2 separate regions of the Homo sapiens genome follow, and region 2 is linked to region 1. Evidence: fine-mapped QTL for protein levels in blood plasma. A gene starts in region 1. The other region holds a variant in brackets. All regions are shown on one strand. Distances are between the middles of the regions.

Evidence for each region. PIP is the chance, under the fine-mapping model, that this variant and not a neighbour inherited with it causes the effect. Sun 2018 read protein levels with aptamers (SomaScan).
Region 2: its variant is fine-mapped to the plasma level of the AHSG protein (Sun 2018, PIP 0.95).

Annotation. Positions count from the first base shown.
Region 1 is chr3:186,607,198-186,616,973 of GRCh38, reverse strand. AHSG (alpha 2-HS glycoprotein) reads right to left here and starts at 3,914. Exons shown (of 7, transcript NM_001622.4): 1 at 3,620-3,914; 2 at 1,179-1,289; 3 at 447-531. The coding sequence starts at 3,832.
Region 2 is chr3:186,589,446-186,606,373 of GRCh38, reverse strand. It overlaps the pseudogene PET100P1. Among named protein-coding and RNA genes, the nearest start is that of AHSG, 15 kb to the left of the region's middle. RefSeq lists an enhancer at 9,140-9,434. The variant A/GGGAA (reference allele first, on the strand shown) is at 5,227.

The DNA of each region.
Region 1 (9,776 bases):
TTATTTTTTTGAGACAGGGTCTCACTCTGTGTCACTCAGGCTGGAGTGCAGTGGTGCGATCTCGGCCCACTGCCACCTCTGCCTCCCAGGTTCAAGCGATTCTCCTGCCTCAGCCTCCCTAGTAGCTGGGATTACAGGCGAGCACCACCACATTTTTGTATTTTTAGTAGAGATGGGGGTTTCACTATGTTGGCCAGGCTGGTCTCGAACTTCTGACTTCAGGTGATCCACCTGCCTCGGGTGGGTGGATTACAGGCGTGAGCCACCGCACCAGGCCAAGAGTAGCTTCTTAAAACACAATTTTAAAAATCCCAGAACCCAGGAAATTTGGCTTCTCCTTTTCCTCACCGACAAAGCTGCTAGAACTACTTAAGTTGAAAATTATTCAGATCCCTTCCCCACTTTCTCTACAAGGAAAAAATGAGAATAAGAATAGTCATCTGTACCTGGACTGGAATCACATTTTGCGTATACCACGGAAAACTTGCCATCTAGTTTCAACAGCTGGAAATCACAGTCTCCTTCGACAGCCTGGAGAAAGAAACCCACGTGAGGATGGCTGCCCTTCCCCTTCGCACCCCGGGCAGGCTCCCTCCAGGCACGGCTGTCAAAGGTGACCCTTGCAAAATCGCCTTTGCTGGGTAATACTGAAACATGGCACTCTCTGCTTTCAGGGATACAACGATATAGTTAAACGCTTGTAAAAATCAGCCCCAGGGCAAGTGGCATCAAATGGCAATTTTATTTATGATGATGATTATTATTATTATTATTTCGAGATAGAGATTCACTGTTGTTGCCCAGGCTGGAGTGCAATGGCAGGATCTTGGCTCACTGCAACCTCCACCTCCCGGGTTCAAGCGATTCTCCTGCCTCAGCCTCCCGAGGAGCTGGGATTTACAGGTGCCCGTCACCACGTCCAGCTAATTTTTGTATTTTTAGTAGAGATGGGGTTTCACCATACTGGCCAGGCTGGTCTTGAACTCCTGACCTCAGGCGATCCACTTGCCTCAGCCTCCCAAAGTGCTGAGATTATAGGCATGAGCCACTGCGCTCGGCCACAAATGGCAATTTTAGAAACTGCACCCTGGCTAGCCAAGAAGGCAGGCTGAGACGCTGGGTGAATCGGTGGAGCTGGCCGAAGGGCCACCTACAGTCATCCTAAGAAGGGTACTCACATGCTCCTTCAGCTGCCTCACGCTGCATCTTGCCACAGGGGTGGGGTCCAGCACATGGCAGGTGGTTTCCAGGGTGTCTATTTCAATCTCAAACAGCTCTCCGGAGGGCTGCTGTGGAGACAAAGAGTGAAGCCGTGAGCAACCTATTCCCCTGATCCTGTGGTGCGGTCCACGGTATGCGCCCTCATTGGGCTTGAGAGCACCCCGCTTTTGGAGAGGTGAGGGAAATGTCATTCTTACTGTCAGTCTGCAACTCCGTCTAGCTCTGAACTGGCCTGTGGGCAGGACAATGACCAGGGCTTGTCTGGTCTTCGTCTGTTGATTAAGGAAGCACCAGATGATGCTCGCAAAGCAGACGGGGTCCTGGGCTTGAACAAGTCGATGGAGCCACAGCCCTCACTCTGAGCTCTATTTGAAAACTACAAATGGGTGTTAACACTTATTTGTATTTATTATTTATTTAATTTTTTAAGATTTCACTCTTCAAGCAGTGCTTTGGAAAATGCAAGTTTGGATTTTTCTCAGACAAGCTGCAAAATAAGGTGGTGTAGGGTAATATCTTACTGTCTTTTTTTAATCTCCTCTATCCCTCCCTCTCCTTCTTTCTTTCTTCCTTTTCATTATTTGCTTTCCTTCCTTCCTCCGTTTTCTTTTCCCTCCTAGAGGTTTTTGCTGCTGTTGTCCTTGGTTTTTCCTTTGTCTTGGCTTGTGCAGCAGGTGCCGGCATGCAACGATGCTGCTCTCTACTTCCCCCTGCTGGCGATAATGGGGAAGGGCATGTCTCCCTCTGACAGGAAACTGGATGTCACTAGTGTAGACACGAGGGAGCTTGCAACAATCCTTGGAGATATTCTTGTGAGTTCACCTGTTTCTGTATCTTGTCTTCGAAGCCTGAAAAATCCAGAAGGTACAAGTATGCCTTTTCTCCTCTCAGCCCAGCTCTGTTTGCCTCTCATTGGTTCTGCCTGATTCACTAGTACCTGAAGCCTCAGCATCCCCTCCCCTGGGAGAAGCTCCGCATTTTATGATGTCCAGGTGTGCCCAGAGTGACTGCCTGAAAGCGTTCACAGCTCTGGCGAACAGGAACCGGGTACACCTGGGTTTCTCAAGGGAACCAACTCTGAAGCTCTGCCTTTAGTAAAAGTCACAATGCCCATTCATGATTACCTTTTCCCTCAGATGTGCGTGTTGCGTGTTCATTTCCCCTGACTTGATCAGCGTTTCCTCCTAACCACCACTGTGCTTTAATATGGCTGCAGCACTCTTAAAATCCATCCGGAGCAATCCTGATTTCAAATATTTTGTCTCTTTGTGAGACGGATGGCAGTCGTCAGTCGGTCCAGGCTTCCTGTTGTTGACCTTATTTTCCAACCTAGATTGTAAGCTCTTGTGGGCACATATTGTGCCTTTTTCACCACTGTATTAGGTTGAACCATTAAAACGGCCAATATTTGGTTGCTTTTGATATAGAAAAATGGCAGTTTTATATGGTTCAACCTAATATCTCTGGTTCTTGTCCAAGGAAGGCTTGTAATACATATTTGCTGAAAGAATTGTCCTTAATCAGAAATAAATCTAATTTCAAAACAGGCAGTAGGCAGACAGCTTCTTTCCACCTCTCCAAATCTCTTGACTGATCCCCGAGGCATATTTCCAGCTTGATTTTTCTTGTCACTGGCTTCAAGCTGCGTTGGTTTCCTGTCTAGTGTGTGAGGAGGTGAATTGTGTTTATGCCAAGACTTCTCTCTGGGATGTGGGTAACTCTCTTTGGGAGGCAGTTTGTGTAGAAGAAGGAACACAGATATGGAATCAAATCCCAGCCTGAAGACTTAGTAATTATATGATTTTGGACCAAAAAAAAAAAGACAAAAACAAAAAACAAAAAAACTGCACACACACACACAACAGAGCCTTGGTCTCCTCTTGGGTAAGACAAGAACAATATATGTACCACACAGCACCAGGAGGCAGGACCGGGAAAGAGTAAATGAGATAATCTATGTGAATGGGCCTGGCATATAGTAGGCATCTGCCAGATGCTAGTTTTATTCATTCTCAGTCTTTGTTAGAGAGAAACCAAACCAAAGACAGATACGTGATTTTCAGCCAGTGGTAACTTGGCAACTAGGAGCTGGTCTCTTGGGTCCTAGTTTTTCCAGCAAGTTACACTTTCTGTCTGTGATCTGCACACTACCATTTGAAGCACTTTTTCTCCTGCACACCACCTCACACCCCACCCAGCTCCCTCCTGACACCCATGACTGCCATACAGAATGTCTCCTCTCCTGCCCTCTGCCTGCCCCTTCCCTCACTCCTGGGAAGAAATCAGAGAATTTACTCCTCTGTGGTTTCATTTGCACTGGGTGATGGTGATTTTTTGAGGCACCTGATTGAGCTCCATGTACACATTATTTCAGCTCATAGACAGCAGGTCCACTTACCTGAGGCCACACCTTTACTTCATCAATCTGGTTCAAGGTGTGTTTGTATCCCCAAGGAAGGTTTTGATTGATGTAGTCTATAGCCACCAGAGCTGCTTCCTCAGTTTCTGGATCATCGCAGTTCGGTTGTCTATAAATCAGCCCTGGGCCATGTGGGGCTGAGTGGCAGCCCCAGAGCTGAGCAAGACAAAGGAGCAGGACGAGGGACTTCATGGCTGCCCCAGAGAGGCCCTGGCAGGCGTGCAGGTGGTTGGAGGCTTCGGGACCAACCCAGGTGCTCTGCTGGGAAAGGTAGACCCATGGAGGGTGGTGGGCTTTATTTATCTGTTGGAGCCTGCCGGAAGAATTGCATAAGGATACAGGATGATTTCTGCTTTGGTTCAAAAGAAAAAAAAAAACACCCTGCAAACATCAGCCCTGGAAAAGCAAACAGGTTAGGACATCGCTGGTCCCCAAGAAATCTGCCAAAGTCCATGCTGCTGTGGGGGAGATGCTCCAAAGTCTGCTTGGAACATGGTAATAGCAGCAAAGAGAAGACAGCTGAGGGAATGAGGTGGACACAGTCAGCCTCAGAGTGCCATGGGTTTGGCAGCAGAGGAAATGTCTTCTACTGTGATCTGAGCATGCCATGGGGTCTGTGAGAGGGAAGGGAGGATACTCAGCAATTTGATAAAATTCTCCAATGTCAGGGGGAGTTAGCTTTCCAAGAGGAGTCCTACAGGGAGAACAAGGCCCACAGATATAGCAAAGGTACAGATGTGTATAGGAGATGCCAAGATTTTGGGGGAAGATTCTTGGAGAAAAGAAAAAGGATGAGAGATGTTTCTGCCTAAAGTGGGGAATGGAGGTGGAAGAAGGGGGTTCCCGTGGCAGGACCACGGTGGGAAATGACCAGCAAAACGTGTGGGGTTCCCTGCCCCTTCTCTTCCTTCTCCAGACCTCACTGCCAGGGCCCTGCATGTGACAGCACAGATGGGCACTGACCAGAGTCTCCTAGCACTAGTAACCTAGTGCCCCTGCCAGTGCACAAGGGCAGCAGAGGGGAGTCCTGACTCATTTGACACAGCTCTGGGTTCGAGTCTGACACCGCAGGCTGAGATGCTGCACGAGCAGCTACGGACACAAATACCCCTTGAACATTCTTTGCAGACTCAGCAGAATTACAGTGTGTCTTTCTGGCCAGAACAGAGGGCCAGTGTTGACTCCAGGCACTGCCTATTAAGTGACCCTTGACAATTCCAAGTGTGACATCCAAGGAGGGTTGGCAGGATAAAGAGAGGCTTGGGAAATATCACACAAGGACCTGGTTTGGTTTAGTCTGAAGCAAAGAAGCCCTCTCATGGAGACCAACATGGTCTTCAAATATTTAGAGGCCATCATTGTGTGTGGGTGAATTTGTTCTAATGTTTGATATTGCTTCAGAGAAAAAAAAACTGGTTAAAAAAAAAAGAAAGAAGAGGGGCCCCTCCAAAGGGAAGCTTAATATTGATTTTCTGGGGTGAGAATCGGGGTGAGGGAGGTGAAGTGAGTGGTGATGGGGCAGAGAAGGTAGTTGGCAGGACTGTTCTCACATTTACTCCCAGCTGCTCACACACCACACCGAATCTTAATGTCAGAAGCTCAGAAGGTGTGGCCAGGACTCCAGGTTCTCTCCAAGAGGGGGACCATGATTCTTCCAGATGAAAAACAAACTCTGGTCATCCAGCAAGATGATCCTCAAAGCCAGGGGCAATCTTCCATCACCTTATACTCCATTTCACTCAGGGCCCTGACTCCTGAACTGTGTGTGGAAGCTATGCTTTTCTTTATATAATCTTTAAAAATATTGAAGGGCTGGGCACGGTGGTTCACACCTGTAATTCCAGCACTTTGGGAGGCTGAGGTGGGCAGATCACGAGGCCTAGAGATTGAGCCCAACCTGACCAACACAGTGAAACCCTGTCTCTTCTAAAAATACAAAAATTAGCTGGGCGTGGTGGCGCGCGCCTGTAGTCCCACCTACTCGGGAGGCCGAGACAGGAGAATCACTTGAACCCAGGAGGTGGAGGTTGCAGTGAGCCAAGATTGCGCCACTGCACTCCAGCCTGGCAACGGAGTGGGACTCCGACTCAAAAAAAAGAAAAATTGAATAAAGTGTGGTAAGGTGGCACACACCTGTAATCCCAACTATGAAGGCAGGATGATAGCATAAGACCTGGAGTAGGCTATGGTTGCAGTGAGCTATGATAGTGCCACTGCACTCCAGCCCAGCCAACAGAATGAGACTCTGTCTCAAAAAAGAAATCATTCACAATCTCATCATGCAGAGATAAACAGTGTTAATGTTTTGATGCATTTATATCTTTTCTTTTTTTCTATGTAAAATAATATTTTAATATAATTTTGATTATACTGCATATACAGCTGTTAAAATTTTTTCACCTATTGCTTTAACTTGAATATTTTCCTATGTCATTAAGTAGACTTAAAAACATGTTTACAGGCCAGGCACGGTGGCTTACACCTGTAATCCCAGCACTTTGGGAGGCCAAGGCAGGTGGATCATGAGGTCAACAGATAGAGAGCATCCTGGCCAACATGGTGAAACCCCATCTCTACTAAAAATACAAAAAATTGGCTGGGCGTGGTGCTGGACGCCTGTAATCTCAGCTACTTGGGAGGCTGAGGCAGGAGAATCACTTGAACCTGGGAGGCAGAGGTTGCAGTGAGGGGAGATTGTGCCACTGCACTCCAGCTTGGGCAACAGAGTGAGACTCTGTCTCAAAACAAAAAACAAAAAAAAACAAAAAAAAAACAAAAAACAAAAAAACAAAAAAACACACTTTTTTATTTAGGAATCTTTGGCTTTTGATTCTTTTTTTCAGGATAGATTTTTAGAAGTAAAATTATTGATTCTAATGATTTGCACATTTTTAAAGCTCTTAATTTTTATAGTCAAATAGTCTATTTGGCTATGCCAATTTATCCCCCTTCCATTTAGCTGTTGTGTGATGTCAGCTCAGCTGTTTTCTCTTTTCCTCTGTTACTGCTTTCATGCTGACTTTTGTGGGAACTTAGATATGTGAACACTCTCAGAATTCTTTTTTAAAAATGTAATTTATGAATATCTTTGCTTTTATCACAGCTACTCCATATGTCTAATACTTATAAACTAAAATAACTTTGGTATCAAGCTGAGTAAAATGATCCCTTAGATTTTTTCAGTTTCCTTAGAAAGAAATGTTGCCATTTACTTACTGGAAATGAGGAAGAAAATAGATGATATTTTGGTATGTTTTCCAAGATGGCTGTAGCATTAGTGCCAATGGGTAGTTCCCTGTGCCTGATGACACCAGTTTTAAACTTTAAAAGATTCTCACTTGCCAAATGTATATGGGACTCATGAGTGATCTTCACGTGCTGAATACATATACTCATGAGTAATCTTGGGTCAGTTTGATCCAACTGGCTCCAGCTTCTTTGCATATCAGTAGGAGATAGGCATTTCCTCCATTTTCTGGTCCTTTGCTGCATTATTTTAGTTACTTTTCTGTGCATTTTTCTATGAGGCTCACATCACAGCAATAAAATAATCCTCATTCCATTCACACTATGATGGCTGATAGTGTATTGAGGATATCAAGGGCTTGTTAGAACTGGTCAAGGAGAGCAGGCCCAACAGTCTAAGGAGCAGGAGAGGATCAACAATCTCCAGGAGATGGCAGCAGGGTGCCGGGCAGTGCTTGCTGGGTGCAACCCTTGTGTGGCTGATGGCAGAAATCTCAAGATGGCAGCTGTCTTAGTCCATCTGTGTTTCTATAAAGAAAAACCTGAGGCTGGGTAATTTATACAGAAAAGAGGTTTATTTGGCTCATGGTTCGCAGGCTGTACAAGAAGCATGACACCGGCATCTGCTTCTGGTGAGGGCTATAGGCTGCTTCCACTCATGGCGGAAGGCAAAGAAGAGCTGGCGTGCGCAAGCTCTTGGTGAGAGAGAGGAGAGATGCCCGGCTTTTTCTTTCTTTCTTTCTTTTTTTAACAACCAGCTCTCACGGAAAATAATATAGCAGGAATTCATTCATTACCACCAGGATGGCACCAAGCCCTTCATGAGGGATCTGTCTCCATGACCCAAACACCTCCCATTAGGCCCCACCTCCAACATTGGGGATTACATTTCAACATGAGACGTGGGGGGACAAACATCCAAAGTAGAGCAGCAGCTAAGGATGGCACCAGGGTTCCTGAATTTGTCAAAAGGACTCTTTGCCAGGGAGCCACTAGGGCAAGTGTTGTATTTAAACTATTCCAAGGCAGAATTCAGTGTTTATAGTTGCAGGCCAGGAGCCACAACAACAAAGATCACCAGGGTCAGAGCTCAGGGTCAGAGTTTCTCAGAGGTTGGTTCCATTAGTGGATGTGGGTATAGGAGGGAGAGGATAGATATAGAAAGATATGAAATATCCCGTCAGGCAGCAAGAGCTAAGGTGATAGCTAGAAACCAGCCTCTCACAAAACAGAAGATGAAAAAGTGCCTGTCAGCAAAAGCCAGAAGGACAACTGGTTTCTGTAGGGAGGAAATAGCAGTGGTTGGTTTTTAAATCATTAGGTCAGGTTCATGGCTCTGCCCTTTCTGGTACTTAAAGGGCCTAGGCCCTGATAGACTGGGTATTAATTTCACTCAAAGACTGGGTGTTTCTTCATTCATATGTTCAATGAACAAACATTTATTGAGCACCTACTATCTGTGTTATCAGATGCCTGGACACAGAGTGATGAGAACCACATGCTCTGGAGGAGCTCATCTTGACTCATTTAGTCCGGCAATGCCTGATCAGCAAAGAACTTTATGTTAATATATGAAACTATCATAATATTATTATACAAATTATCATATTTTCCTGTGGAGACAGGTTGGGATTTACTTCGCCAATGCAAAGCACCAGTGAATGAAAGCAAATTACCTTTGTCCAAGGACCCATCTGGTTTCTTGTGAAAGTAACTTAGCACCAAGCACCCTGGAAGTCATCAACCCATAATTAGGAAGAGCCCCTTGTACTCAGCACCAAAGTTGGGAGATGTGGGCCCAACCGCAGGTGGCAAAAATGACCATAAGTAATGGCTCCATCTTTTGGGGTGGAAAAAGGGCTCTGCAAGCCTTCCTCCAACGCTGCCCTGATAAGCAGGACCTAGCTCTGCAAATCCAAACCCCAGAAAGGAAATTGCATTTGAGAACATATAAAGGGAACAGTAAGGCCTGGACTAGAGTAGGGCAAGGGAGTGGGTAAAGGTGCAAATTTCAAGGAGGCCTCTCCCTTGAGGTTGCTGCTTCTTAAGTGTTGTGCTCTAGGCCTCTCTTGCTGTACCTTTGTCCTGCCCTGCGGAAGAGGCATAATCGAAACCCAGGATAGAAAAAATGTTTCTGGCTGGATGCGGTGACTCACACCTGTAATCCCTGCACTTTGGGAGGCCAAGGAGCGTGGATCACCTGAGGTCAGGAGCTTGAGACCAGCCTGGCCAACATGAAGAAACCCCATCTCTACTAAAAACACAAAAATTAGCCAGGCATAGTGGTGCGCACCTGTAATCCCAGCTACTCGGGAGGCTGAGGTAGAAGAATCGCTTGAATCCGGGAGGTGGAGGTTGCAGTGAGCCAAGATCGCGCCATTGCACTCCAGCCTGGGTGACAGAGTAAGACCCCGTCTCCAAAAAAGAAAAAACGTTTCTACTTCATCAAATATTTTTTCTCTTTCAAGGGAAGTTCTTTTAACATTTGGGCTGGTGATCCTATGTGTGCAATGGGCCCCAAAACACAGCAGTCCTTGCAGTAAACTTTTCATCATCACATAAGAAACAATGGGAAACCTTCCATTCTCTTTTGTACAATAGGAAGGAGACTTACTGCTACATACTGTTTAGTGTGGCCTTGACACTCACTTAAACATTCTGTCTTATAAGAGAATCACTTCACGGTTAAAGAAATGGGGAGATTTGAGCTTTCCAGGCCTGGAACAGCACCTGCTCAGGAAAACAGCATCATCATAGCTCCTGTTACTGACTTATTCATAAAAGGCATGAGAGCTGAACTATTCTTATCCTTCCTCCTTTACAGAGGGAAAAAAGGCTGAGAGGTTCTGGAACTTGACCACATCACACGCCAAGAAAATGGAAGGGCCTG
Region 2 (16,928 bases), 14 kb after region 1:
TCAGGGAAAATGGTAGTCAATGCATATAGTCACATCCATCTTTCCTGCTGGTTTCTGTCACCAGACTTTGATGTCTTCAAAGCAAGGCGAGTGAGTGGCACTCTTCAGACAAGAAGGAAGATGGCAGGTGAAATCATCTTCTTCTAATGAGCCCTGTGCTATGCTTGCTGATGTCCTTGGTCACGGAGATTTTCAGAAAAGCCATGGCCTTACCAGTGAAGGTTACACAGAGGCCACTGGAGTCAAGTAATTCATTGCTCCTTATTACATTTAGGCACTTCTTTATCCATCATGCAGGCTATTGGGATTAAAATGGGTCCTTTCAACAATGAGTCAATATTGAAGATTCTGTGGATCCATTTATTGACACATATTGGGTATTCTCTGGACACATTCCTTAACTTCAAAACTGTTTCTTGGACATTGTGCTAGGTGCTAAGGAAACACAAATGGAAGGTATAATTCTTGTCTTCTGGGTGTTCACTGTTGGGTCTGATGCCATACAACTATTGTGAACACACGAGGGAAGTGTAAGCTGTGGTTCTTGCCCTCAGCCTGAGGAGCACAGTCCCTGAGGTGGAAGGGTCTCCAGATGACAGCAGTGTCCATGCCTTATTTACCCTTGATTTCCAGCACCTGCCTCCTGCCCAGCACAGTTGGGCCCCAAACCTGATCACTGACGGGGTTGCTCTGGACCAGCCCATCACTCAATGCAGAGCTTCCTTCCAGTGTTTGGTGTCTGCTTGAGGATGTGGAGATATGAGGGCCTCTCTCCCACTCCTGCAGCCCATTCCATTGTTGCTTCACACTGATTACTAAGAGATTTCCCTGCCTGCCTTGTAACCTGACCAACAAACCCAGATTCTGCCCTCGGGAGTTACCCGAACTAAAACACTATACAGACTAAATCCCTGGTCTCTATATTATGCTTCAGGTATTTAGAGACATCTGTGCTGTATCTTGTTTTCCTTCTCTGGCCTCCAATATCCCTATTCCTTTACATACTTCTCAGGTGAATTAGTTTTGAGACTACATCATCATCCTATTGACCAGGCAAGACTAGCACCAATGATTAAATAATAGGATGAATCATCCTGTGATTAGGAGTGAAATTAATTCTTAGCTCTCTGAGTGGGTGTGATCTGGTGCATGCACATGTGTGTACATGTGGACAATTCAACAATTACAGGATGAAGATTAGCCAGCTGCTACTGGCAGGACAGGAGGGGTTCTCTTGGTTTTCAGAGGCATATCTGGACCCTCAGAAAGATTAACAATGAAACCAACAAACAAGTCCTTCTTCTCCATAGACTACCTTGATGAGACTTCTTGAATGTTGAGAGGGAAAATATATGAGGCTAATGGAAGACCCATAAGAGGGGACTAAGCCTCCTACTCTGCTTGGATCTGGCATGGCTCTTGGCTGTAGCATTTCTTCACTCTTTGTTGTCTGATCTCTTGAATACACTTGAGGATATGGGCAGTCTTTGCCTCTCATGCTCTTGTTAGAATAGTAAAAGGAGACAAATTGAAATTGAGAAGGTGCAGATCACAGGGACAGGGCAGCTAATGTGGGCAGTTTTCTGTCTGTGCTGGGATTATGCAACAGGCAGCGAGATCATTTGGTAGGTTAAACAACAGATTGAGCCTCCAGAATTTAGATTCTTTTGTTTTTGTTTTGTTTTGTTTTGTTTTGAGACGGAGTTTTGCTCTTCTCACCCAGGCTGGAGTACAGTGGCACAATCTCGCCACCTCCTGGGTTCAAGCGATTCTCCTGTCTCAGCCTCGAGTAGCTGGGATTACAGTACAGGTGCCCGCCACTACGCTCGGCTGATTTTTGATATTTTTAGTAGAGATGGGGTTTCACCATGTTGGCCAGGCTGGTCTCGAACTCCTAACGTCAGGTGATCTGCCTGCCTTGACCTCCCAAAGTGCTGGGATTACAGGCGTGAGCCACCGCGCCCTGCCAGAATTCAGATTCTAATGGAGACTGAGGCGTGGGAGGATGGATACTTGCAGGAAGGTAAGGGTAAGATGGAGAGAGGCTGGATGGGTGGGAGGAAGAGGTGTGGGAGCAACCTGATGAGGGAGCTTACATGGAGAATCAGGATAGACCCAAGTCCAAACCCTGGTGCCACTATTTACTTGCTATGTGACCTAACTAGAGATTAAATCTGGCTCTGCCTTTGTTTCTTCATCTGTTAAATACGGGCAGTAAAACCTGGCTAGTAGAGATGAGCTGAAAATTTAGTGAGATAACATTTGCAAAATGCTCAGCGTAGGGCCTGGCACAGGGTAAGGTATCAATAAATGGGAGTCCTTTTTTGTTGTTGTTTTTTGGGATGGAGTTTCACTCTGTCGCCCAGGCTGGAGTGCAGTGGCGCGATCTCGGCTTGCTATAACCGCCACCTTCTGGGTTCATGCGATTCTCCTGCCTCAGGCTCCCGAGAACCTGGGATTACAGGTGCCCACCACACCCAGCTAATTTTTGTATTTTTAGTAGAGATGGGGTTTCACCATGTTGGCCAGGCTGCTCTCGAACTCCTGACCTCAGGTGATCCACCCGCTTTGGCCTCCCAAAGTGCTGGGATTACAAGCATGAGCCACCGCGCCTGGCCGATAAATGAGAGTTCTTTATAGCTCTAATAATACACTAGGACTGAGAGCACAAAGAGGCAATATAGGGAACACTAAAGACCAAGATACGGTCTTTGCCTTCGAGTGGCCTGTCTCTAGAAGCGATACATCCTGGTGGCTAAGAGTAAGGGTTCCTTAGCTTTAACAACTCAGGCAAATTACTTAACTCACTGCATCTCATTTTATCCTTCTGTAAAAGGAATAGCAGCAATGTATACTTCAAAGGACTAATGAGAGCATTAAGTAATACGGTATGCTTAGCATTCCTGGCATCAGGTAAGCGGCTATATTACCACTTACTCAGACGGTAGAAATATAACAGGTAAACAGTGCTAGAGGTCACATCTTTTTCCATCAACAGGCTGGCAAAGAGAGGGTTGTGTGTCGGCAACTTCCTGTAACAAGAGGAACCGGAACAAAAGGGGGATAGTGGTACTGTAGGAAAGTAACCGATCAATCTTTCCCCATTCTTTGTGCTACAAGGAACAGCGGCCAACTCAGGGAACCCAATGAGGCAGGACTCAAAGAGAAGAAGGCAGTAGGCATAGGTCAGAGTGGCTGGTTGGGGCTCAGGATGCGAGTACACAGCTAAGTTTCCTGCAAGGTGGAGAAGCAGGCACAGAGGTGCTGGGACAATGAAACAGGGCTGAGGAAGGAGAGGCGAGCAGCTCAGAAGCTTCCCTGGGAGGGGATTCCGTAGGCATTTAAAAGATTGTGTTTGCCCAGTGGACTTTCAGCTTCCCATTGGAGTCTGCAAGTATAATCACCAGGGCTGGCTTTCCAGGTGTGTGTCCTGTGCAGGCCCCTGCACTTAAAAGGACCCTGTGCCTGTGGAATGTTCTGCTGTGGCTGTCTTGAAATTCTTTTTTTATTCAAGACAGAGTCTCGGTCTTTTACCCAGGCTAGAGTGCAATGGTGCGATCTCGGCTCACTGCAACCTCCGCCTCCCAGGTTCAAACGATTCTCCCGCCTCAGCCTCCTGAGTAGCTGGGACTACAGGCATGTGCCACCCTGCCTGGCTAAGTTTTGTATTTTTAGTAGAGACAGGGGTTCACCATGTTGACCAGCCTGAATTTTTAGCAAGGGCCCTGGGTTTTCATCTTGCATTGGGCCATGTAAATCATATAGCCAGTCATTAATCATAACTAGTACGTTAGAGGAACCAAGTGCTGTAGGCATTTGCAGGAGAGTGGGGGTGGGGTGGGGGGAGTGGATCATTTCCAGCTGAGGGTGGACAGGGGGAGAGGAAAGAAGGTGTTGTGGACAGGGGACACTTTGAATTTGACCCTGAAGGATGGGCAGGATTTGGATAGATAGAAATGGGAGTACGGCTATCGGTTGGAAGGAATATGTTGGCAAAGTCGAGGTGTAGGAGTATGGACTTTGCTTAGGGAATGGTAGAAATCCTTGTGAACCTGGAGTCTGCTCTTGAGCTGCTCACATCTAGGCCCTTCCACAGGAATGCCATGCTCAGGTGGCCTTTCTATAGGGAGCCTTTTTCAAGGTCTTTAAAATCCTTTCTTCCAATTACCACTCTGCTAGGTGCCTGCCCAACTAATAAATTAAATCCAGCCATGTTATTCATCGAAACCTCAAGGCACAGCTGGAGAAAAGCAGATTTTTTAAAGAATCAGAAATTTTAAATTGAAAATATGGTCACTGCCGGGCGCGGTGGCTCAAGCCTGTAATCCCAGCACTTTGGGAGGCCAAGGCAGGCGGATCACCTGAGGTCAGGAGTTTGAGACCAGCCTGGCCAACCTGGTGAAACTCAGTCTCTACTAAAAACAAAAATTAGCTGGGAGTGGTGATGGGCGCCTGTAATCCCAGCTACTCGGGAGGCTGAGGCAGGAGAATCACTTGAACCTGGTAGGTGGAGGTTGTGGTGAGCCGAGATTGTGCCACTGCACTCCGGCCTAGGTGACAAAGTGAGACTCCATCTCAAAAAAAAAAAAAAAGAAAAATATGGAATTGAGGCTGGGCGTGGTGGCTCATACCTATAATCCCAGCACTTTGAGAAGCCAAGTTGGGAGGACCACTTAAGCCTAGGAGTTTGAGAACAGCCCAGCAATATGGTGAGATGCTGTCTCTAGGAAAAACAAAAAAAATAACTGTTATGGTGGCGTGCACCTGCATTCCCAGCTACACTGAAGGCTAAGGTGGAAGGATTGCTTCAGCCCAGGAGGTTGAGGCTGCAGTGAGCTATGATCATACCACTGCGCTCCAGCCTGGGTGACAGAGTGAGACCCTGACTCGAAAAAATGGGAAAAAATTGTCATTTAAATAAAAGAAAAATACTTAAAACAGGTCAAATAATAGATCAAATACAGACCAAGGGAAAAATCAATTAAGAATCCCTATCAAGCTTGGTGTCATGGCATGTGCCTATAGTATCACCAGCTTCTAGGAGTATCTAGTAGCTGATGAGACTACTAGGAGCCCAGGAGTTTGAGTCCAGCCTGTGCAATGTAGCAAAACATGGAAAGAAAAGAAAAGAAAAGAAAAGGGAAGGGAAGGGAGAGAGAGAAAGAAAAGAAAGAAAAAGAAAGGAAGGAAGGAAGGAAGGAAGGAAGGAAGGAAGGAAGGGAGGGA[A/GGGAA]GGAAGGAAGTAAGGAAGGGAGGGAGTGAGGGAGGGAAGAAAGGAAGGAAGAGGGAAGGAAGGAAGGAAAGAGAAACGAAGGAAGGAAGAGAAAAGAAAAAATATACAATTCTCATCATCTATCTTGCTCTCTTGATCTTTTATATCACAACTTCTGTGTAGGGATTTGCACAGCTGGCAAGAGGTAGAGGCAGAATTCTGACCAGGATCCAAATCCTGCCCTGTGTCGTGTGCCCCACAGTGCGACAACTCCTGCTTCACTCCCTCAGGGTGGGTTTCCCCAAACAGAAGCCTGGAGTTGTTCAGAAAACAGTGCAAGTGTTGGCTCTTACAAAATCACCTAGAGTCATACCATAGTGACACAGATGAGAAACAACATAAAATGAAAAAGGCATTTTTCTTTTAAAAATCTCACAATTTCTACCCTCAACTGACTATCCTAAAATTTGCATTTGAAATTGTATGTCTATGAACATATGACTGTCATCACTTATATTAACTCAGCATATTGTGAATGACGTGCCAATGTACATGTTGTTGTATTCCTTAGATTTGCATAAATATTGAACCTTGCCACTTGCTCAACAAGCTTTGATTTTTCTTTTTTCTTTCTTTCTTTTTTGAGATGGAGTTTCACTCTTGTTGGAGTGGAAGGCTGGAGTGCAGTGGTGCAAGCTCGTCTCACTGCAACCTCCGCCTCCCGGGTTCAAGTGATTCTCCTGCCTCAGCCTCCCAAGTAGCTGGGATTACAGGTGCCCGGCAGCATGCCCAGCTAATTTTTTGTATTTTCAGTAGTGAGGGGGTTTCACCGTGTTGGCCAGGCTTGTCTGGATCTCCTGACCTCAAGTGATCCGCCCACCTCCTCCTCCCAAAATGGTGGGATTACAGGCGTGAGCCACCACGCCCTGCCAAGCTTTGATTTTTCTTTTCCAATATGTGTCCCATAGCTTCTAAAAGTTTCAGCTCCCGCTCCTGAATTAAACAGGACAGAGTTGCATAGATAGCTAGTATGTTTTGTGCAGTCCCAGAGCCTCAGCCTCCTCCAAGCTGTGCTGCTGCTCTCTGGGAACTAGTGGGACGGACCACCTGCAGTAGGGCTGGAGAGTCAGGACCAACAGGCCTGGCCTGGTAACAGAGCCTCCGTGATCAATGGGAACAACAAGAGTGTTGCTTAGTTTTGGCTTCTGGCTCAGCCCTACTTTGAACTCATATCCAAGTTCTGTTACAAATAAGAACTGAAGAGACTGTCCCTAGAGGACCCCAGGAAGTTCAGGTATCTCTGTTTTGATGCCTGTTGACAGCTTGTAACACAGCAGAGAAAAGAGGCCTTCCTCTACAGTCTGCACAGAGCTCTGGATGGCCCTGGGTGCTCCGTGGCCTCAGCTGGGGCAGGAGAGGGCAGGGTCCAGTAGCCGGGCAGTGCCCGGGTCGAGGAAGCAGTGCCCAGCAACAGGCCGCAGTGTCTAGGAGAAGGCAGCAGTGCCCAGGGCAGGCAGTCACGCCCTGAAGAAGGGAGTGGTCCTCTCATAGTTCCTATGTCATTTGATCACTGCTAAAAAACAATGTCCACTCACTGTATACTAAAACACAGCATATTCTGAAAAGTGAACAGAGAATACAACCCTTAACCAAAAGAAATTTGGGAACGTCACATTTAAGAAGGGATAGGAAATGGTTACCAAGGACAGTTTAAACCAACAGAGACGACATGTAAAGAGGAGATTGTAAAGAGGGGCGGCAGCATTATCTCTTGGTAGAAAATCCAAAACTAACAGGTCAAGGTTCAGTGACTTTCTGATGTAATGAAGTGTAAGTTCAAAGTCCTTTTGTTATTCAGTGTCCAGGGAAAAATTATTGACCAGAGAACCCGAGCAGGGAATCGGGGCATACAGGGTGACCTGGAGTGGATGGGGATGGGGCCTAGGGCACCCTAATTTCCGTCAGCACTTCCCTTCCTTTGCTATGAATGACTGGTGTTTTCTCAGTTGAACATAAAATGCTATGTGAGCGCCACTTTGTGACATGTCAGTCCACCTCACCACCGGCCAGGCTACCTGAGCTCCACCCAAGTAGAAATTCTAACCCACCAGCAGCTACGAGCCTAAGTTCTGTCTCTGCCCTGCCACTCTCTGATGGTGTCTCTAACACACACACACACACACACACACACACACACACATGCCACATGTACTTTTCCACTTACAGGCCAGGCTGTTTTGGGGTGCACAAGGGCAGAGCCAGGGGGCCTACTACTCTGGAAACAGGGCTATAACCATGAGGTTGTCAGACTTTGATTTTTTGCAATTGCCTCAATTGTTTAGTTTTTTCCTTAGCCGAGGCATTTTGTTAAATACTAAAATAAGTGTGTGACTTAAAGTTCCTATCATTCTAACACTTTCCATTCAGATGCATTCATCAACAAGGAATGAAGTCACCTTTCAGAGCACACGTGTCAGGTCTGGAGCAGCTACAACTTACTGCTGTCCTGAGAGCACAGGGCCTGCTTGGCACAGCTCCTCTACTATGGTCCGCTTCTCTTGCTATAAACAGCGGTGGCCAGGGTCTGGTTCCGTGCCATACATAGAGGAGGTGGTGATGACATTTTCAAAGAAGAATGTGTGTGAAGGAGGAGGAAGGGGAGGTGGGAGAAGGTGATGAAAACCATGCTGCAGGAGTGGAGAAAACCAGAACCAGGGCAGGCGCTGTGGCTCATGCCTATAATCCCAGCACTTTGGGAGGCCAAGACGGGCAGATGACAAGGTCAGGAGTTCGAGACCAGCCTGGCCAACATGATGAAACCCCCATCTCTACAAAAAATACAAAAATTAGCCAGGCGTGGAGGTGTGTGCCTGGAATCCCAGCAATTGAGCAATTCTCATGCCTCAGCCTCCTAAGTAGCTGGGATTACAGGAGGCAGAGGTTGCAGTGAGCCGAGATCGTGCCATTGCACTCCAGCTTGGGTGACGAAGGGGAAACTCTTTCTCAAAAGAAAAAAAAAAAGAAAACCAGGCTGGGGCACAGTGGCTCACACCTGTAATCTCAGCAGCTTGGGAGGCTGAGGTTGGCAGATCACTCAAGGTCAGGAGTTTGAGACCAGCCTGGCCAACATGGTGAAACCCCGTCTCTACTAAAAATACAAAAAAGTACCCAGGCATGGTGGCGCACGCCTGTAATCCCAGCTACTTGGGAGGCTGAGGCAAGAGAATCATTTGAACCTGGGAGGCGGAGGTTGCAGTGAGCTGAGATCGCGCCACTGCACTTTAGCCTGGAGAACAAGAGTGAAACTCTGTTTTGAAAAAGAAAGAAGAAAGAAAGAGAGAGGGAAAGAAAGAGAAAGAAAGAAGGGAAGGAGCGAGGGAGGGAGGGAAGGAAGGAAGGAAAAAGAAAGGAAGGAAGGGAAAGGAGGGAAGGAGAGAAGGAAGGAAGGAAGGAAAAAAGAAAGAAGAAAGGAAGGAAGGAAGGAAGAGAAAGAAAGAGAAAGAAAGAAAGAAAGAAAGAAAGAAAGAAAGAAAGAAAGAAAGAAAGAAAGAAAGAAAGAAAGAAAACCAGACTCATCATCAGCAAACCCCAGATGAGGATGCCTAATAGATTGGAAGGCACCTTCTTAAGCTGTGTGTTGGGAGGAGTCTGAGCTCAGGGATCTGCTGCGGAGGACAGGCTGGAGCACGGCCTGCACCCCACCCTGCACTGGCTGGACTCCTCTGTGTAGGAGCTGGGCTCTGGGTATCCCTGGTTTCCCAGTGCCTCCTGAAGTTCATGCACATAGTGGCTGTTTAATAAATGTTTAAGCAATGAAGTATATTGTTTTAATCTTATTTTTCCCATTGAAGAAACCTACAATTGCTCCTGATGTTTTCTCTTTTTTTTTTTTTTTTTTGAATAACAAGGAACTGAGTATATGTATATTTCATCAGGGGAGGGGCTAGGACTCCCACTTGGAGGCCTCAGGAGTTCTGCTGGGCGTCGCGAAGGAGCTTCTCCTCCCGCCGCTTCCGCTTCCGTAACCTCTCTTTGAATTCCTCTAACTCTTGAAGCTTCTCAGGTGGCCACAGCTCCCTCTTGCGCTGTATGACATCATCCTCAAACCACTCGGCCTGATTGGAAACCCAGAACATAGCCACAGGGAAAGTGAGGTAGATTATCATCCGAAATATCTCCAGCTTCACCCCCATCTCGTTTCTCCCCCTGATTGTTTCTTTATACCAAATGAAAGCTTTCACGAGTGAGCTCTCCCTCTCTCCTTTTGATGTAATTGTGCCCACTTCATCTCTACACCAGAGATCATGGGCTTTTCTCTGGCTGCCAAGAGTACAGAGAGCCCCTCCCTGAGTCATATGGGGAGGGGTAGGCATGAATAGGCCCCGGGCAGCACTCGGAAAGGGGAGTTAATATGACACTAGAATGACCTGGAAGCTGGACAGCAACCAATCTGTTTCCCTGCATGACTCTCCATAGTTGATAGAATGTGCACCGGATCCATCCTTTCCACAGCAGGCAGTGCCCTTTCATGCAAATAGAGGAACATTTTAAAAAATGTTCTTTGTGGCAGGGTGCGGTGGCTCACGCCTGTAATCCCAGCACTTTGGGAGGCCGAGGCGGGCGGATCAGGAGGTCAGGAGATCGAGACCATCCTAGCTAACACAGTGAAACCCCGTCGCTACTAAAAAATACAAAAAAAAATTAGCCAGGCGTGGTGGCGGGCACCTGTAGTCCCAGCTACACGGGAGGCTGAGGCAGGAGAATGGCATGAACCCGGGAGGTGGAGCTTGCAGTGAGCCGAGATCACGCCACTGCACTCCAGCCTGGGCCACAGAGCGAGACTCCGTCTCAAAAAAAAAAAAAAAAAAAGATGTTTTTTGCTGGTTCTGGGCTTTCCTTCTTGAGGGTTTTTGCAAACTGTGCCTTCAAGCTCAGACTGTGACAGGGACTCTCAGACCAGCCAGTGGGCTGTTGCCAGCTGTCAGGAGTCCAAGTCAGCCAAAAATCTGAAATATCACTGTTTATAGCAAACAACTAATATATTTTATTATCTAAATTGTAAAAATCCCTTAATATTTACCTTAAGGAGATTCATAAAATTAATAACTACACAACAAACAAAAAGAGACAAACAAAAATTTAAAAAATAATAGAGCAAACAGGCTGAGCACGGTGGCTCCTGCCTGTAATCGCAGCCCTTTGGAAGGCCGAGGCGGGAGGATCGCTTCAGCCCAGGAGTTCAATACCAGCCTGGGCAACATAGTGAGATCCACATCTCTATATAAAAACATTAATAAACAGTATTTTAAAAATAATAATAAATTTTTAAAGGAATACAGCAAACAAAAGTGGGAGAATTTTGCCAACATACGATTAGAAAAAAAAAATTTAAAGATATTTACAACCTCGTCTCTACAAAAAATATGAAAATTAGTCAGGCATGGTGGCATGCACCTGTGGTCCCAGCTACTTGGGAGGCTGAGATGGGTGGATGGCTTGAGCTTGGGAGGTCAAGGCTGCAGTGAGCCATGACTGTGCCACTGCAGTCCAGCCTGGGTGACAGAGTGAGACTCTGTCAAAATGTATATATAATATATATATTTATATATAACATATGATGTTTATATTATATATATTATATACAATGTTTATATGATATATATTTTATATAATATACAATGTTTATATTATATATATTTATATATAAATTTTATATTACATATTTATATTTTATATATAATATATATTTATTTATAAATATATTATATATATTTTTCCCCAGAGGCCTTTAAGCCCATAACCATGTAAGTAGCCTATCTTCTTAGTATGTATAAGTGTTTAACATTATTCATTAAAATAAACAGAAAATGGAAATGAAAGCCAATTATAGTTATGCTTATGTTTTTATCATATAGTCAGCACATGCAATAATTTATCTTTAATATAAAGGAAGAGGGTGCATATACAACTTGTACCAAACAAAATTATTTTCTCCCTGTCCCCTGCGTAAATGTGCAATGTAGAATGTTGTTTTCAGTGTGTGCCAATCTGTGAACCAGCTTGGGAAGGCTCTGCCTTGGTCTGGCCCTCCCCTGGCACGTGTTCACCCGGGTGACAGTTGTGCTATGGTGCAGCCCGACCTGGTCTCCATGCACAGCTCTCATGAGTTCCTCCTTCATGAGACAGTCTCAGAACTCAGCCTAGCTCTAGCCCCTCCTGTGCCTTCAGCCATCACTCTGCACTTGCTCATAACAGTTCTGAATGACGTGAGCTGCATGGGCTTCCATGCAAGCAGCACCTTTCATGCTGGGGCTTAGAAGGATCAACTGTCCAGGTTTGTCTGGGACTGAGAAGTTTCTGGGACATGGGACTTTCAGTGCTAAAACAGAAAAAGTCCCAGGCAAACAGAGATGATCTGGTTACCCTAGTGCTGGTGGGGAAAGGCAATGGGTCACACCAAGCGCTGTAACTCTGGACTGCCAGATCTCTAGCAGTGAAGGTCAGAGGTCTGAGGCTTCCTGCTATACAAACACTCTGCCAGGTGGCGTGTCTCAGGCCAGCTCCTGAGATGTCTGCTCTCATTTCTCCCGAGGCTCTGTGGCTGTTTTATCTTTCCCTCTTTCCATGTTTAGTAATAGCCCTCATAGCAGTTTCTGTTTTTCTGGGCCTAGAGCAGGCTGAGAATGTAGGATTGGTTTCCATGTATTCTCTGCAGATATTCTTCAGCGGAGACATTCTTGGTTTTTTCCCAAGGAAAGGGTGTCACGGGGTCAGAAATCCACACCTGTGCAGGTCAATGAATGTTTTACACTGTTTGACATTGGGGAAATTTGTTAGTGTTTCAAAAATATGTCTTAACAGAGATGCAAATTGGTTCAAAAAGTTTAGTCACATTTATTATATAACAGTAATAATACCTAATATTTAATGAGTGCTTGTTACATACCAGGTACTTTAAATATATCATATTGTTCAATCTTCACAATATGAGTTGGGTGAGGAGGCTCAGAGAGGTTGTCATACTTGTTCAAGGTCATGGAGCTAATAATTGGAAGAGAAGGGATTTAAATCCAGTCTCACCGCAGAGCCAGCACTTGGACTTAGAACTGTAGACTCGGAGCTAAGCACAATCATGTTTGAGCAAACCAATGAGAAGACTGCAGTTTCACATACTGCTTTCTGGACAACTGTGCGGTGTGTCAATTAAGTGTGTTTCCTTCCTGGACCTAGGTCTATGTAATTGAGGGGGCTCTCAGTTTCTATAGCAAGAGTTAAATAAAAGACAACATGATATCTGTGCACTGAGTGGATCCAGGAATTATCCACGGTTTGGCCACAGTGTCCAAAATTTTATTATCATTCTGGGATTCATATTCATGTGGGATTCATATCACCAGAATTCCAGAGACACCACACTCAGGGCTGGTAGCCTATGGCTACTTCTCAGCTCAGCCAGTTCCTCTCAGAAGTGAGCCATGCTGATAAAAGTCTGGGCTTGAAAATTCCTAAGGTTTGTGCTTCAAAGGCCACCATAGAAATAAATTTTAGAAACCACGTACTGTGATAGTTTGTGACAGCTCAGTTTTGCATTACCTTCCTTGATCAAATTCTCTGTATGCACATACATGCTCAGATGAGCTGGTTTGAGTTCTTCCCTAGAGTTTCAAGTTCAGTGCCTTCAAATATCACATCAATAGTGTCTTGGGGCTGGGCAAGGTGGCTCACACCTGTAATCCCAGCACTTTGGGAGGCCAAGGCAGGCAGATCACCTGAGGTCAGGAGTTCAAGACCAGCCTGGCCAACATAGCAAAACCCTGTCTCTACTAAAAATATAAAAATTAGGCGGGCATGGTGGTGGGTGCCTGTAATCCCAGCTACTCAGGAGCCTGAGGCAGGAGAATCCCTTGAACTTAGGAGGCAGAGGTTGCAATGAGCTGAGAAAAAAAAAAGTGTCTTGGTCTGTTTTCTGTTGCTTGTAACAGAATATCTGGAACTGAATAATTTATAAATAAAAAAATGTATTTCTTACAGTTATGGAGGCTGAGAAGTGCAAGTTCAAGAGGCCAGATCTGGCGAGGGCCTTCCTGTTGGTGAGGACACTGCAGACTCCCCAGATGGTGCAGGGCATCACATGGTGAGGGGGCTGAGCATGCTAGTTCAGGCCTCTCTTTCTCTTCATAAAAGCCAACAACCCTATTGATTCACTGGTCCATGAGTAGATTAATCCATTCACAAAGGCAATCACCTCATGATCCAATCGCCTCTTAAAAGCTCCCCCTCTCAATACTGCCACATCGGGGATTTTCAACATGAGTTTTGGAGGGGGCTAAAATTCAAACCATAGCAAGTAGAAATGCCTATTTTTAGGTTGTTCTTATGGGCTTCACAGAGAATTTCTCAAAGGTCTTGTTCTGAGTTCTAAAATCTCTTTCATTATCTACAGTTTTACCATCTAAGTGGATCAAAAATCGAGGAATCCTTTACGTTCTTCTTCAATGTCTTCAAAATGCCCCCTACAAAGGCAATGGCCACACATGAAGGGGACATAGCTTTAACCACTTGCTCATCAACAGACTGGGCTTGTGAGGCCCAGGGCAAAAATCCTGTGATGGATAATGCAGGCAATGCAGAGTGTGGCCTCCTTCTCTGTTTATTGCATAGACTGTTGAAACATGTTTTACTGTCATTTTTTTGTTTGTTTGTTTTTGAGACAGAGTCCCGGTCTCTTGCCCAGGCTGGAGTGCAGTGGCGTGATCTCGTGATCTCGGCTCACTGCAACCTCCGCCTCCCGGGTTCAAGTGATTCCCCTGCCTCAGCCTCCTGAGTAGCTGGGATTACAGGCATGCACCACCGTGCCCAGCTAATTTTTGTATCTTTAGTAGAGATGGGGTTTCACCATGTTGGTCGGGCTGGTCTCAAACTCCTGACCTCATGATCCGCCCGCCTTGGCCTCCCAAAGTGCTGAGATTACAGGCATGAGCCACCGCGCCCGGCCATTGTCATAATTTAATTGTAAGTGTTCTTTCTGTGGTAAATGAACTCAACTTTCCATGTTTAACTAACATATTTAAGATTTCTTACTGGCCAGTGATTCAGCCTTTGTTTGTCTTGCTTGCTGGCTAATTAGGTGTGTGCGTTTTATGTTAAAAAGCTCTCTTATATATCCCAGCACCTAGCACAGTGCCTGGCAATCAGAAGAAATAAATTCAGTGATGATTATGTTGAGTCCTGTAGAGTAGTAGAAGATACAATTTACTTGAAGAGACTTTTCTCATACTATTAGGTTTAAAAAAACAGATAGTTGTCCTCTTTTTCTGGAACTGGGATCTGAGAGGTGTTGGCAGCTATAGTGAGAAACCAGATCTGTCATTTGACATTCCTCTCAGTTTCGAGTGTCCATAGATCAGCATCTCTCATGTTCTCATTAATATCACCGATGTGTAATCCACATTTCCCAGGCACCCCAGCAGAGAAAGGGATAATCCTAGGGGCCAGAATGGTGTGACATTTGCTCAGATCTCATCCCTGAAACTCCAGCTGCGAGAATGCTTTCCTTCCTTGATGGCAGGGATAGGGGTTGGTACTCATGGACTTGCAAATGGTCACCTCATTCTTTCTGAATTCACTTGCCTTTTGTGAGCACTATGTGGCCCCTCCATGGCTGTTCTGATGTTCCACAGTCTCAGCTGCTAATTGTATGGCTGTCTCATTTGATCACCTGGGGCAAACTGTATTTTCCAAAAAATGGCCACAACAATATTTGCAGGTCTACATATCCTTCAGAACCTTAAAGATTCTTTTCTTGAAAGGTCCAGTCTAATTCCCCTCCCCAGGAAGAGGGATGAGCCTTTGTGGCTGCCTCCATAAATGAAAATGCGATGGAAAGGATGCTGCACGACTTATGAGGCTAAGTCATAAGAAGAACTAAAGCTTCTACCCATTTCCACTTCCTTTTGGGAAACGTGTCTTGGGAGCCCTGAGCCAATATGTAAGAAGTCCAGCTATGTATAGCCACCATGCTGCAGAAACCACACAGAGATAAAGATTCGTGAGGAGTCTCCCCATTTCCAGTTCCCAGCTGCTTGAGTCCTCCCACCTCCCAGAATGAACTGTCAGACATGTGAGTAGAAATGACTCCAGACCCAGCCTTCAAGCTGTTGTCCCAGCTGACACCAAGTAGAGCAAAGGAGTTGTCTCCATCAGTCTAGCTCATATTGCAGATTTGTGAGAAAAAAACAAATGTTGCTGCGTTAAGCCAGTAAATGCTAGGATAATTTGTTATATGACAATGACAAGAGTAACCAGGACACCACCCTTGTGTTATCATTACGTTCTCCCCTTGCTTCTTGTGATGCCCTTGCTTTTCTTCTCTACCAGTTGCTGAGAATTAGAGGAAGACCTTTGCTCCCACCAATGTCAACATTTCTTTACCAGAAAACACAGAGGCATTTAACTCATATTTCGAAGACTTACAGCTTCTTATAATGGCCCTGGTGGTTATACTTTTTGTTCTACTGACTCTATTTTGTTACAGTTACTCTGCCCACAAAGTGCAAGACCCTTTGTGATTATGTTGGGGGACATCAATTCAAATGACACCGTGATAGCATTACTGTCAAATCATGCTTCCCTCTCAATGCTGTTGATGAAGCTGGTGTACCCCAACCCTGTTCTTACAGGTTAAGTTGCTTTTTCCCACTTGAAACATTGTACAACAGCCAAAAGCTTATCTGGTCAGTTTTAATGCGTCCTGCCCCTTCCTAGGACTTATTGCAATGACAAACATATAAGAGCTGTGAAAACTCTGTGACTTACACACAGTAGGCACCTGGTGTTTTAAGTGCTCTTCCTGAAATGCTCACTGACAATAAAACTATTGAACAGATCAGGACTGAAAACATAGCTTTGTTTTGTGCCAGCAAAGACTCTCTTCTCTCCTTTACAGGTTGACATTGAGCCATTAATCAACAGTATGTTCAACAGTAACTAGTGAGTTATGAATCCAACTATGTGCCTCTATTTTATCTCCAGGGGATATCACAAGATGAATCATCAAACACCTTGCTGAAAACATTATCACATTTCCTGTTCTGGTTTAATGTTACCTAACTGGTAGAAAACACAGAAGACTTAATTACATGATTGCTTTTTTTTTTTTTTTTTTGAGATGGAGTCTCGGTGTGTTACCCAGGCTGGAATGCAGTGGTGGCGCAATCTTGGCTCACTGCAACCTCTGCCTCCCACGTTCAAGTGATTCTCCTGCCTCAGCCTCTCAAGTATCTGAGATTACAGGCATGTGCCACCACACCTGGCTAATTTTTGTATCTTTAGTAGAGATGGGGTTTCATCATGTTGGCCAGGCGGGTCTCGAACTCCTGACCTCAGGGGATCCGCCTGCCTCGGCCTTCCAAAGTGTTGGGATTACAGGCATGAGCCACCGTGCTCGGCCTTGTTCTTAATCACCTAATTTGGCCCCTTGCAGTGGCTTCCATAACTGTTACTAATTCTCGGAAACCATCCTTTAATTTATTATTATTATTATTTGGCAGAATCAGGCTCCAAATCAAAATCCAGCCTGTATGGCATCTGCCTTGTCTACGTTAAGATTAAGGGAGACTAAAAGAGGAGGGTAGTTAAATGCATTATTATTTGAGTTTGCATTGAAAATTATAATTATTATTGTTTTACTTAATATCCTGATTTTTAGTGGCAAGAGCTAGAAA